Linked DNA regions of Homo sapiens: regions 2, 3 and 4 are each reported to be linked to region 1. Evidence: microRNA targets listed by miRTarBase, many of them from high-throughput screens and not tested one by one. Region 1 holds a microRNA gene; each other region holds the end of a gene's coding sequence.

The links. Region 1 holds the annotated microRNA hsa-miR-3685 (UUUCCUACCCUACCUGAAGACU, at 1,432-1,453, opposite strand). A microRNA usually pairs through its seed, bases 2 to 8, with sites in the 3' UTR of a target mRNA and lowers its output. Matches are read on the target gene's strand: a 7mer-m8 pairs with bases 2 to 8, a 7mer-A1 pairs with bases 2 to 7 and ends in A, and an 8mer does both.
Region 2: the mRNA of WT1 is a reported target of hsa-miR-3685. The part of its 3' UTR that is shown has no 7-base or 8-base seed match.
Region 3: the mRNA of CDKN2AIP is a reported target of hsa-miR-3685. Seed matches in the 3' UTR shown: 7mer-A1 at 1,601-1,607.
Region 4: the mRNA of TPM1 is a reported target of hsa-miR-3685. The part of its 3' UTR that is shown has no 7-base or 8-base seed match.

Annotation. Positions count from the first base shown.
Region 1 is chr12:95,308,197-95,311,380 of GRCh38, reverse strand. It overlaps MIR3685 (microRNA 3685), which reads right to left and starts at 1,458; the gene lies at 1,397-1,458. MIR331 (microRNA 331) reads right to left here and starts at 2,961; the gene lies at 2,868-2,961.
Region 2 is chr11:32,386,358-32,389,541 of GRCh38, reverse strand. It overlaps WT1 (WT1 transcription factor), which reads left to right. Exons shown (of 10, transcript NM_024426.6): 10 at 363-1,767. The coding sequence ends at 484. Among named protein-coding and RNA genes, the nearest start is that of WT1-AS, 48 kb to the left of the region's middle. RefSeq lists a cis regulatory region at 2,588-2,605 and enhancers at 2,390-2,647, 2,299-2,647, 2,525-2,669.
Region 3 is chr4:183,447,095-183,450,278 of GRCh38, forward strand. CDKN2AIP (CDKN2A interacting protein) reads left to right here. Exons shown (of 3, transcript NM_017632.4): 3 at 1-1,970. The coding sequence ends at 333. Among named protein-coding and RNA genes, the nearest start is that of CDKN2AIP, 4.1 kb to the left of the region's middle.
Region 4 is chr15:63,065,277-63,068,460 of GRCh38, reverse strand. It overlaps TPM1 (tropomyosin 1), which reads right to left. Exons shown (of 10, transcript NM_001018005.2): 10 at 2,283-2,565. The coding sequence ends at 2,562. Among named protein-coding and RNA genes, the nearest start is that of TPM1-AS, 17 kb to the right of the region's middle.

The sequences.
Region 1 (3,184 bases):
AAAGCAAATTGTGAAGACAAGGAAGGACTACTATATGGGATATTTCCTACTCAATGACTTCAGAATCCAGTAATTACACATATTCTACCTTATCTCATACTTTCAATTAGAAAATTCCAAACAAGGGTCAAGTTTCAAAAATTGCCTTTATAGATATTTATTCCTTGCTTTAAATCTTTTCTGGAAAGAAATGGCTTATTATTTAAAAGTCCGGTTCAAGGGAGGCCACTTTCTCTTTAACTAGCTTTTAGTATACAGAACCATTTTGGAGTTCCCATGAATGTTCCTAAGAGTGTAGGTAAGCCTAGAAAGGTTCAAACCAGTAACATTAATTCAACCAACTTGTCAAAGTATGCTTCATCGGGTGTTCATGACCTTCTTGGTGTCAGTGTCTTTTCTGTCAAGGAGGTTATATAAGTCAATAAATATAACATGCCCAGAATGTATTCAGTGGCTAACAATCACTGGGAATGGCAAAAATGGAACTTTAAAATTTACACTGCTGTTTTCACTGTGATAAATTATCATATGAGGCACTTAAATGAACAAACAAAACTTGGAGTAATGAATCAATGGCTTTCCCAGACAACTGCCATCTTTTGGCATATTAACAAATTCTGAAAAATACTATAATGGAAGAAAAACAGATAGGAAGGAAAAGGGATTTTTACCTTTTGGTATTAATCCATATGGCAAAGAGCAGAATAAAAAAGGTACACACACAAAAAGATATAAGGAAGTATGGATTTTATTAGAGACTTCTTAAGCTTAGAAGGAACAACAATAATACATATATATATAAATCTATAGTTGGGTTGTTGTAAAATCCTTTAACATAATTGACAAAAATTCCATATGATTAAATACCGAAAATAAAGTACTGTGTTAAAAAATTATAGATATTTGCACACTCATGTTTACAGCAGCATTATTCACAATAGCCAAGAGATGGAGGCAACCCAAACGTCCACCAACAGATGAATGGATAAAAAAATGTGGTAAATACATGCAGTGGAATATTATTCAGCCTTAAAATGGCAGGAAATCCTATCACATTCTACAATATGGATGAACCTTGAGGACATTATGTTAAGTGAAATATGTCAGCTACAAAAGGACAAATCCTGTATGATTCCATTTATATGAGGTATCTAAAGTAGTGAAATTCATAGAGAAAAGTAGAATGATGGTTGCCAAGGCTGTGGGGAAGGGGAAAATGGGAGTTGTTTAATGGGTATAGAGTCCCAGATTTGCAAGATGAAAAAATTCTGAAGATCTGTTTCACACCAATGTGACTGGACTTAATCTCATTGAACTATACACATAAAAATGGTTAAGATAGTAAAATTTATATGTGTTTTTAAAAATCACAATTTAAAAGATGCAAAAAAAGAGAGTACTTTGCCCATCCCCCCAAAGACTATAATCTCAAGTCTTCAGGTAGGGTAGGAAATGTACTACCCTAATATATAAAACACAATTAATCAAAAAGTAAAAATGAAAATACCTCTGAAAGAATATTCTCAAATGATATTTTTTAAAAATCACAGTTTAACACTCAACTAAGTGTCTGGATTGAATGTAGACTTCAAAAACTTACTACGTAAACAAGCTATAACTTTTTAACTCTTCACAAATTCCTATTTTCAGTGTTCATAATGAACAAGGTTTAAAAAAGTGGAAAGGCTCCCAAAATACTGAGAACATATATGTATATAAATCAAGGATGGGTTCACTCATTTCAAGCTATGTCAAGAAGTCTATGGGATGAAGCATGTCTGTTGTGATGGATATAGTACAGAACTAACTCCACGGCTGAGTTCTTCAGAGTGAGCCTCTGTAGGCTCATAGTCCTATTTTAAAGGAATAACCTATTGACCCAATTTGCTGGTGTTATAAGCTTGGAGGAATAGCACAATTTCAAGTTCCTTTCACAGGTGGAGTTTCTGATTAGTCTGTGGTTATTTGAAACATGGTCTACACCTACTGCAGAAGCCAGCATTATTAAAAGCATACATTTTCATTGTGCACCATAACTTTTGGATTTGGGGTCGTTTCATACTTTTTCAGAAATACTGTCTTCTAAATTAAACAGAAAAACATCTATGTGAATATAGCGATGCAACAGTTGTGATATGAGACCATGTGATGGATCAACTAGGTCAGAATATTTGTAAAATCCAGAGTGGCAAGGAATAAAAATAGAGAAACTTACTAAAAATCTTCTACAAAATAGTGATGTAAAATGTGACGTATTAACCAATTTCTACTGTGTCATTCTAGCTTGTTTTCATTAACCATAGCAGAACTTCTAAAAGTGAGCTCTAAAATGTGGCAAATTTGATAATAAATTAAGGAAAAAGTCATTAGTCTCCAAAAACAAGAATTGAAAATCATTTGGCACTGAAGCCAGATGGCAAAGACTAAATGCTCTTCAGAAATTATGAACAATTATTCAGTTACATGAGACTGACATAACAGTGTCAAGTAGAAAAACATTTAAGAAAACAGAAACCATTAAATTTGGGGGAGAGTTTAATTTGGAGGAAGAAGTTGATTTTGGGGTTTTTTAGGGCTAAGTTGCTTCAGCTAAAAATATAGAACTGATAATAAACAAGAATAGCTCTCTTCACTGGCAATAATATCTGTATGGAATTTCTATTGCGAGAAATTACTATAATGCCAAAGGCTGGGAAGACTTTGTTACCCAATGTCATCCCTCTAATTTTAGAAGGATTAACCAACCAATTTTTGCTAAAATGTAGGCACACATACCAAAAAATGTGAATCTTGGTGAATATAGGATGTCTGGTAGGCCTCAGGTTATCTTCAGTCTTCACACTCTTGATGTTCCAGGAATGATGCGCGAGCTTAGGTTGGTTCTAGGATAGGCCCAGGGGCCTGGTTTGATCTGGGATCCCTGGGACCATACCTAGAACAAACCCAAACAAAACCAAACTCCTTGGGAGTGCTTTCAGCTCAGGTAGACTTCTGGGCTTTTCACCCATATGGACCTCCACGACTGTACCAGGACCATATACCAACCTTTAAGGGATGGGAGTGACATTTCTGGAGCCTTCTGTACGTTGTCAGCTGATAGTACTGTGCCTGAGTAAGCATTATTTAAGTCATGGTATGAACAGAAGGTAACAGATTGGTGCAATAAAAGTGCAGAAAATACTTT
Region 2 (3,184 bases), not on the chromosome of region 1:
ACAAGGGGGAGAAATTTACACAGTTCACAAAACATTCTATCAGCAGAGACTGAAACAAACGTTTTTCCCCTTAATTATGAATTGCTCAGACATTTCCCCCAACTTGACTCATTCTTTATCTCCCACTTTCCAAGTTTTCTGACCTAAGAATATAACTTTTTACAATATTTCGATCCTTAAAGCCCCAAGAGGTGCTGCTGTTTCAAGGCTGCCTGGGAAATGAGCTCAGTTGGTTAGCTCAGGGACAGAATGATGGGAAATTCAGAGTGGGTGCCTTGTGATGACTTCACTCGGGCCTTGATAGTTGAACTTGTGCCTGTCTCTTTGTTGCAAGTGTCTCTGACTGGCAATTGTGTCAACAGGTGAAAAGCCCTTCAGCTGTCGGTGGCCAAGTTGTCAGAAAAAGTTTGCCCGGTCAGATGAATTAGTCCGCCATCACAACATGCATCAGAGAAACATGACCAAACTCCAGCTGGCGCTTTGAGGGGTCTCCCTCGGGGACCGTTCAGTGTCCCAGGCAGCACAGTGTGTGAACTGCTTTCAAGTCTGACTCTCCACTCCTCCTCACTAAAAAGGAAACTTCAGTTGATCTTCTTCATCCAACTTCCAAGACAAGATACCGGTGCTTCTGGAAACTACCAGGTGTGCCTGGAAGAGTTGGTCTCTGCCCTGCCTACTTTTAGTTGACTCACAGGCCCTGGAGAAGCAGCTAACAATGTCTGGTTAGTTAAAAGCCCATTGCCATTTGGTGTGGATTTTCTACTGTAAGAAGAGCCATAGCTGATCATGTCCCCCTGACCCTTCCCTTCTTTTTTTATGCTCGTTTTCGCTGGGGATGGAATTATTGTACCATTTTCTATCATGGAATATTTATAGGCCAGGGCATGTGTATGTGTCTGCTAATGTAAACTTTGTCATGGTTTCCATTTACTAACAGCAACAGCAAGAAATAAATCAGAGAGCAAGGCATCGGGGGTGAATCTTGTCTAACATTCCCGAGGTCAGCCAGGCTGCTAACCTGGAAAGCAGGATGTAGTTCTGCCAGGCAACTTTTAAAGCTCATGCATTTCAAGCAGCTGAAGAAAAAATCAGAACTAACCAGTACCTCTGTATAGAAATCTAAAAGAATTTTACCATTCAGTTAATTCAATGTGAACACTGGCACACTGCTCTTAAGAAACTATGAAGATCTGAGATTTTTTTGTGTATGTTTTTGACTCTTTTGAGTGGTAATCATATGTGTCTTTATAGATGTACATACCTCCTTGCACAAATGGAGGGGAATTCATTTTCATCACTGGGAGTGTCCTTAGTGTATAAAAACCATGCTGGTATATGGCTTCAAGTTGTAAAAATGAAAGTGACTTTAAAAGAAAATAGGGGATGGTCCAGGATCTCCACTGATAAGACTGTTTTTAAGTAACTTAAGGACCTTTGGGTCTACAAGTATATGTGAAAAAAATGAGACTTACTGGGTGAGGAAATCCATTGTTTAAAGATGGTCGTGTGTGTGTGTGTGTGTGTGTGTGTGTGTGTGTTGTGTTGTGTTTTGTTTTTTAAGGGAGGGAATTTATTATTTACCGTTGCTTGAAATTACTGTGTAAATATATGTCTGATAATGATTTGCTCTTTGACAACTAAAATTAGGACTGTATAAGTACTAGATGCATCACTGGGTGTTGATCTTACAAGATATTGATGATAACACTTAAAATTGTAACCTGCATTTTTCACTTTGCTCTCAATTAAAGTCTATTCAAAAGGAAAGTGGCAAGATTCCATCAGCTGTATTGTGTTCAAATCTCAAGGCCACTGAGCCTCTTTTAAACAGGTAAGAGAAGACGCCACCGACATCGACGGCTACTAGTGAGCCTATCCAGGTCCTGACCACAATTTATTTCTCTCTGTCAAACTTCAGGAGGGACTTATATGTCCTAGAAGCAACAGAGAATATCTTCACCTTGTGTTACAGAGTGATTGTGCTCATGCTGTGGTTGAATGGGGTTTGTGGATGATGTGGTGATTATGTTTTAAGGTTTTAAGGTTTATTTTAAGCAGATTGTCATTGCATCCCATCATCCCAGATCAGCAAAAGAAAATAGAGAGATGTTAATGACAACTAGTCCTTTTGAAAAGTTCAGATACATCACTGGGAGGGCATAGGCTGAACACCTAGTACAATTGAATTTACAGCTGTACTTGCTATAAATCAGCTCAGCAGATTGAAAACTGCTCAGCCTTTCCAGGGCAACTGAGTGTGAAAGCAAAGATCTATATTATCTATAAACTATAAACTCTCTTTCTGTTCTGGTGTATGGTTTTTGAATTGTAAATAAGGAGATTAATTTGGTGCAGCCCCTCTCAGCTCCATTATCTTGGGGCTTGCATGCATTCCGGGTTTTATTTCTTCATTTAAAATGCGTCTCAAACAGATGGAAGCCTAGCTATGGAGACTGTTTTACATTGAAGTGCAGCTCAAAGTTTGGGCAGCCTAAAAGTCAGGTCCAGAGGCCCCTCTTATTTTGCATCTGGCTCTTGCATCACTGTTAATTATAGCGAGTGTGGTGACTCATTTATATCAGCCGTTTTTATCTTTTCCTGCCAGAAGACAGCATTTCTCTGGAGAAGCTCAGGACAAGCATGGCAAACGTCAGCGAGTCGGAAAGAGCCAGGTCTTACAACAAAAGTACAGCCACATTGATTGTTTCAACTGCACAGGGAAGAACAGAGATTCTCAGACGACCCTGTAAGTTTAGCTTGCAGTTAAGATCATGGGCTATGGAAAGCAGACCAACCTGGCTTCAAATTCTAAATCTCCAGTTTCTTTATCTGTGAAGTGGGGACAAAAGTCCCTGCCTGATAGGATCATAGTGAGGTTTAATTTTTTTTAAGTATGAAAACATCAAGTACATAGCAAATGCTCATAAACATTATCTAGGAAAACTATTACCCAAGAAATTACTGGCTCATTTCTTTTACCTCTCCCTCCTCCAGGCATCCTCTTGCAGTATCTAGCCATCCTCACAGGTCAGCTCTGAAAAATGGTAAAAAGTCCATTGCCCTCTACCCCAACCCAGAGTTAATAACTTTTGCAGCAATTGAGCTTCTTGCCAGCCTTGCCACAGAGACCATCTCTGCTTGCTCTGTGTCTTCTGTAAAGCACTTGTGAACACTGTATGTGTTT
Region 3 (3,184 bases), not on the chromosome of region 1:
ATTGAGGCTCTGAAAGCAACACTGGATGTATTTTTTGTCCCACTAAAAGAATTGGCAGATCTGCCTCAAAATAAGAGCTCTCAAGAAAGTATTGTTTGTGAATTGAGGTGCAAGTCTGTGTATTTGGGCACTGGCTGTGGAAAAAGCAAAGAAAATGCAAAAGCAGTTGCATCAAGAGAAGCATTGAAGTTATTTCTCAAGAAAAAGGTGGTGGTAAAAATATGTAAAAGGAAATACAGAGGCAGTGAAATAGAAGATCTAGTACTCCTTGATGAAGAATCGAGGCCTGTAAACTTACCTCCAGCACTAAAACATCCTCAAGAATTACTATAATGTGTCCAAAATATCACTGCATACAATATCTGGTATTTGAAGAGAAAAACTGACTTTTGTATAGTATAAAACACAGGCTTTCACAAATTTTGTATTGCTTTTTTTCCAGTTTTGCAGAAAATTTACATTCTAGTTCTCTTCACACAGTAGCAGTTGTAAATAATTTATGAATGACAGTACACATTAAAAGGTATGCATTAGCAGCATATTAGTATGCTGTTTTATTTGCTGAAGAAAATACTGTCTTCTATTTTTAATGATACATTAGGTACGATGTGTAGTTCGGTAGAGTCCTAAAATTTTTGTACTACTTTCAATTTGGTGAAAATGTATTAAGTTGTCTACCATGTTTTCTTTTCTAGCTGAATAAACCACATCAAAGGAAAGGGACCACAGTATTTGAATGTTTGAAAGTCTGTAAAGCTTAAGGTTTTAAAAATGTTGCCCGTAATGTTGAACGTGTCTGTTAAAAAATAAAAGAAAAAATAGTTGCTTCAAACTATTTTTATGAGAAGTTGTAAGCATTTTTTAGATATAAAGCAGTATAAAGTACTTGTTATTTTACTCTGAAGTTGTTTAAAATTCACCATGACTTTGACCGCTGAAGATTCTTTAAGCGGGTTAATTTATGTTTTGAGGTGGAATACAATTTACACTTTTTTCTTAAAAACATGAATGTGGGTTTCTATATTAAGCATATTTTGTGACTACTATTAACAGATTGATTTGTTTAGATATTAAATGCTTTAAGCTATTTTACCTTTTCAAGAAGTTGTGTTTTTTTTCTCCAAGTCAGAACCAATTCCTGCAAATAGGCTTCCCATGACTTGTCATTATAAATTAGACAACCAGGTAATTGTGTGATATACATCTTTATTTAATTTTTTTTTTTACAGCAATCCCCTGAGCCAGAATAGATTAAAAGCGATTCCCTTCAATTTTCAAATCTAGAACTGGATGGTTTTTGTGTTTATGCATCTTTTAGAATACCGGAAAGAACAGAGAGCCGTGTTCAGCTCTTGATAATGAGCCTATTCAATTTAACTACATTCGTTAAAATGAAGTGGAATTTTGTTTTCGTCTTAGGTGATTCTGCCTGTTTGTCTGTCATTGTATATTCTGTTTACTTTGCTTCAAACTGGCCCCAAGATGTTATTTTTGTGGTTTCTGGCTTTCTAGATTCTATTTTTAGATACTGCCCATTGAGCAATAATGGTGATAATATAGAGAGAAAAGAAAGACCTTTCATGGGCCAGTTGTGTTGGAATAGGAAAATCAAACGTAAGCACAATTTAAGTATGTAGCAGTTATTCCTATTTTGTATTCTAGGAATAAAAAGATACTTTAATTTTTTATGCTAGAATTACATAATTACATAATCAGATGTTTTAATTTTACCATATAACCTTTAAAAATGATTCATTTTTGAGGATATTTAATTGGATACCAAAGCTAAAATCCATATACTGTAAGTGGGTTGCCTTTATAGATTGCGGGACACAATAACATGAATGTATTGTGAAAGCACTTTTAGTTACCTCACTTTCCTCAGTCTTGGAATGTGTATTTTGTGGGATAATGATTATCAGAAAAGCAAAAAATTACAACGAACAAATAAATTTATATAATATATCCAATTAGGTGGTTTGGTAATTTCCTAAATTGGCTTGTTTCAAGTTACTATGAAGGTTATTGAGAATGTTTTATAGTGACTTTTGATGTGGAGGAAGTTGTTTAGTGTACATTTATGATAATCCTATTTAAAAACCTAGAAAAATGCTCTTGGTTAATAACATTTAAAGAATCCTGGTTTAAGAGAAATGCATATTTTAGAATTCTATTATTGAGAGTGAATCTTGGCTGTCTCTTACTAGACATGTAACCTCTGGGAATTTAACCTTTTAACCTTACTTCGTCTGTGAAATAGGACTAATAGCTGTCTCATAGAGCATGGCAGTTAGATGAGATGATACATTCAAAGTGCCCGGCATGGTGCAGATATCCCATGGTTCACTTATATATTCTTATTCCTCTTACAAGGAGCTCTTCTCATTTGGCCTACTTTTCAGATGGAGAAACTTACACAGAGTAATTCGGTCAGATAATTCAAGCCCATATCTGATTTCAAAACCCAAGCTCAAGTATGTTGTACTGCTTATTATCCTTGTCACTTCTCTATATGCTGAAATTTCTGAAAATCCCTCCCAGAACGTGATTTTTTACCAGATTAAGTGACCGCATCTTTCTAAAGCCTCCTTGAAATGAGTCACTTCAGAGGCTCTTCTATTATTAATGCTTCTAATACTTGCATATCTTGAATATCCTCAACTAGTGAATCATCCCATATGGATGCAGTTGAACTTTGTAAAAAGACCATACACACACAAAAGAAATCTGCACAAAAAACCCCCCAAAACCAAAAAACCAAACACACCTGCCTAAAATAGTGTATAATCAAGTTGAGTGAATAAAGTCGGCTACCAAGATGGGATATACTGCTTTTTTCAGATGAGTGAGGGGAGACGATTTCCTGAGACATCAAGATTTTTCTTGATGTTAGAATGAGATTTTTTTTTTAATGGTAAAATTAGTTGACTTGTAAGAATGATACTGTCATGAGTTTTTGACCTAAATTCTTGGAGCCTGTCACTGCTGTCATTGGCTAGGATAATTGTCATAGGGATATGTGTAACTTTAAGGCCTTTGATATGTATTATCAGGAGCCTGCTCCAATTTGAATTATGTTTTCCCTGCCAAGTGCAGCTTTTCTTGGTACAAATTTCTACTTGCTGTTTAGATTTTTGAGTAACAGCAGTGAGAAAGTAACAAAAACAAGCCGCAATTGGGAATC
Region 4 (3,184 bases), not on the chromosome of region 1:
GATGCTATGCTCGTTATGTTTTCTCGCTTGGAATATCTGCTGCTCTGTCCTCTTTGCTCATCCACATTTTTTGAATATGCCAAACCCCAGTCAAACGTCCGCTACCTCCTCCAGGGAGCTCCCAGTCAGAATGGTTCTCTCTTCCTTGTTGCCTCCAAATACACATGCCTATTAGTTCGGACTCGCTTCACTCCTCTATCTCCCCATCAGATGCCCAGCTTATTGAGGACAAAGAGCCTTTCCAGCCCATCTCTTTACCACACCCCCACTGCTTCCCACGGTGTTTTGCACGTGACATATGCTTGGGGGTTCCAAGACATATATCCCATTACTACATTCACACTATGGACATAGGAAGTGTCGCCATGGGTGGGGAGCTTGTCTCAGTTTGCTGAGCCCAAATGTTTGGCCAGGCTAGAATGGAAGAACTTTGGAGAAAATCTGGAGAATCCAGAGGGTCAGTATGAATTCAGCAGGAAGGACAGTGGTCCCTCCGACAGCCTCCTCTGGATCTGCTCTGCTTCAGCTGCTGTGGAGCTGGTGTGCATGGGTGGCCCAAAGGCAGGGACAAGACATGCTCATATCCTTGGAAGTGTTTTCCCTTCCGGTTCTATGGAGACTCCCAGCTGTCTGAAACTTCAAGTGCCCAAACTCAGTGATGCTTTTGGTTTGGCCCACCAGAGCAGCTGTAGCTATGGCCTGGCCCTTTGAACCAGAAGCCTGGTTCAAATCAACAGTTGAACAAGAAATCAACAATTTCTTGATAAACTTGAGTTTATCAAGTTTTCCTCTTGCACATGCATACCTTGGGCTACTCCTGACCTGCCCTCCCAGTCCATTAGTGCCCCACTTCCCCTTGTAGAGTGTACTTATAGAAAGTGCGAAAGTCTCTGGAAGGATTTCCAAAACACAGATGTGCCTCCAGAATTACATGAACATCTGCTCAGCAGAACTTTCAGACTTGGCATTTTGTCTACATCAGGAAGCAGGATTTACTCAGAGAAGGGTACACTTCTCTTATTCTGAATTTAAAAAAGAATGAGGAAGGAATCATAGTCAGAAGCAGGCCCAAGGAGCCTTAAGAAAAGAAAAGCATGAAATCATGGAAGTCTTTATAAACTCAAGGGAGAGACATTGTCCAGATTCTAAAATTCCACCATACTATGACTAAAATACTTTAATTCACAGCTTTCTTTAAAAAAAAGTATTTCCTCTATGCTTTGAAGTCTCTGTAGAGTGAGAATGACACTATCTTCTGAGTTTGTCCAAATTTATTTGAGTATGGTGGTATATCAGCCCTCTCGGGCTAAAAAAACTATATACAAAACATGCAGATCATCCATGTTAAAAAAAAAACAGGAGAAATATATAGCTAGATTGTTGAGGAAGGAGAAATGTTGGGAATTATAACACTAAAGTCCATATTAGTTAAAGTTCTATTTTTTGCAATGTATTTTTTTAAAAAAATCACTTAATTGCTGTTTGTGAAATAAAACAGAAGCCCAAATGAAATACAATTGTCTTCTGAACAATTTCCACCAACTATCTTTTTGGGAAAAAAAAAAAGAAACTTTCATTGCTATATTTTAAAAATGTCCACAAATGAAAACACAGCCATTGAACACAAAGATTATGTACAATCCCTCCCAAAGAGTATGTGCTAAAAAGCACAAAACAAATCACGACTAAACAGAGTAATCATATTTAGAAAACCTAAGATGTCATTTTCATGATCAAAATAAAGGTGGCTGAGTCATGAATATACTTCAAAAAAGCTTGAACTTTTCTTTGTGCTATAAAAGGATGATCGACAATAACCAAAACTTACATTGTTTGAATCCAAGTTCTTTTTCACCCTTCTCAATGTATAACTTCCTAGTAATATGGGACAGCTACAGAACCATTCATCATGAGCCTTTCATTAGTTAGCCAGGTCCTCCCAAGTAAGGCCACCGAAATAATCAACACAGAGGGGTCACTACATCCCGAGCTAAACCTCCAGCAAAGGAAGACACTGATCAAGCCAGACCTTTCAACTCTCAACAAGCAATGTCCCCTGTGTGACCCAGACTGCAAAGCAGAGCCATCACAATTCCCCCAAAACCCCCCCAGATGTCCAGACCTCATTCTAACCTTTGAAAATCAGAACTCTGAGAGGGAATGCAGGCCTGGGTATTTTTTTGAAGTTCAACAAGGAACTACTGCTTTAGAAACTCCTGATATAATTCTGTATAGTGTTCAGTATTTAAAAAGAAAAAGCAGCAGCCAAACACTAACCCTCATATGTGTGAAGCAGCTTTGTAGTTTTATTCAATGTTGAAACTAAAATGTCAATAAATAAGAAGTAAAAAGAATAGCAAACAGAAATAGCTTACACAGTGTTTATTTGACACTGAAACGAAGAGCTTCTGTACAATAGAAAGCACAGTGTGTGCCTGGCTCTAAGGCAGGATGCTAAGAGAGAGAACCAGGGTCAGCTGGAGAATAGACAAATGCAGAGCTCAGAGAGGTGGGACATCCAGCTCGACGAGGGAGTCTTGGGAGAAGTGAAGCAAAGAAACTTATCTGCGTGAAGATAAAAAGGTGGGAGGAAAAAAAAAGTGGCACAATGAGAAAAAAAAAAAAAAGAAAGGAAACCAAACCAATAGATGAGAGCACTTGAAACACAGACAAGAAGCAGTCATGCAAACCCCACTGCCAGCCACACCCTTGGAAGGACATCCATCTTCCCACCTGAGGCCGTCACAGGCCGCCTTTCGGCAAGGGTCCATTTTAAGAAGACCCATGAACAGAATTTAAAAACAAAAAAAATTTTAAGCTACACTCGTCTTTCAGAATATTTAATCATACTTGATGCAAAAAGTTTTTCCCAAAGAATCACCACATTTTAGCACTGAAAAAGACCTTAGAGACAGATGATCTGCTCCACCCCCTCATTTACAAATGAGGGATGAGAAGACACATTTTCTCTGGTTTCCATGGCAACAGTCATGTCTCTAGAGGCTTTTTTGTTGACTGTGGGGATTCTATAACCTCTAAGGCAGCAGGCACATGCCACTCTCTTCAAGTTACCATTTTTTCTGCATGGGTAAATGAATGACAGGTGGGCTTGGAAAATGACATTTCCAGCTTCAATGGAATTCAGGGTGATATTAGAATGAAGAACTCTGAAACATTCCAGGTT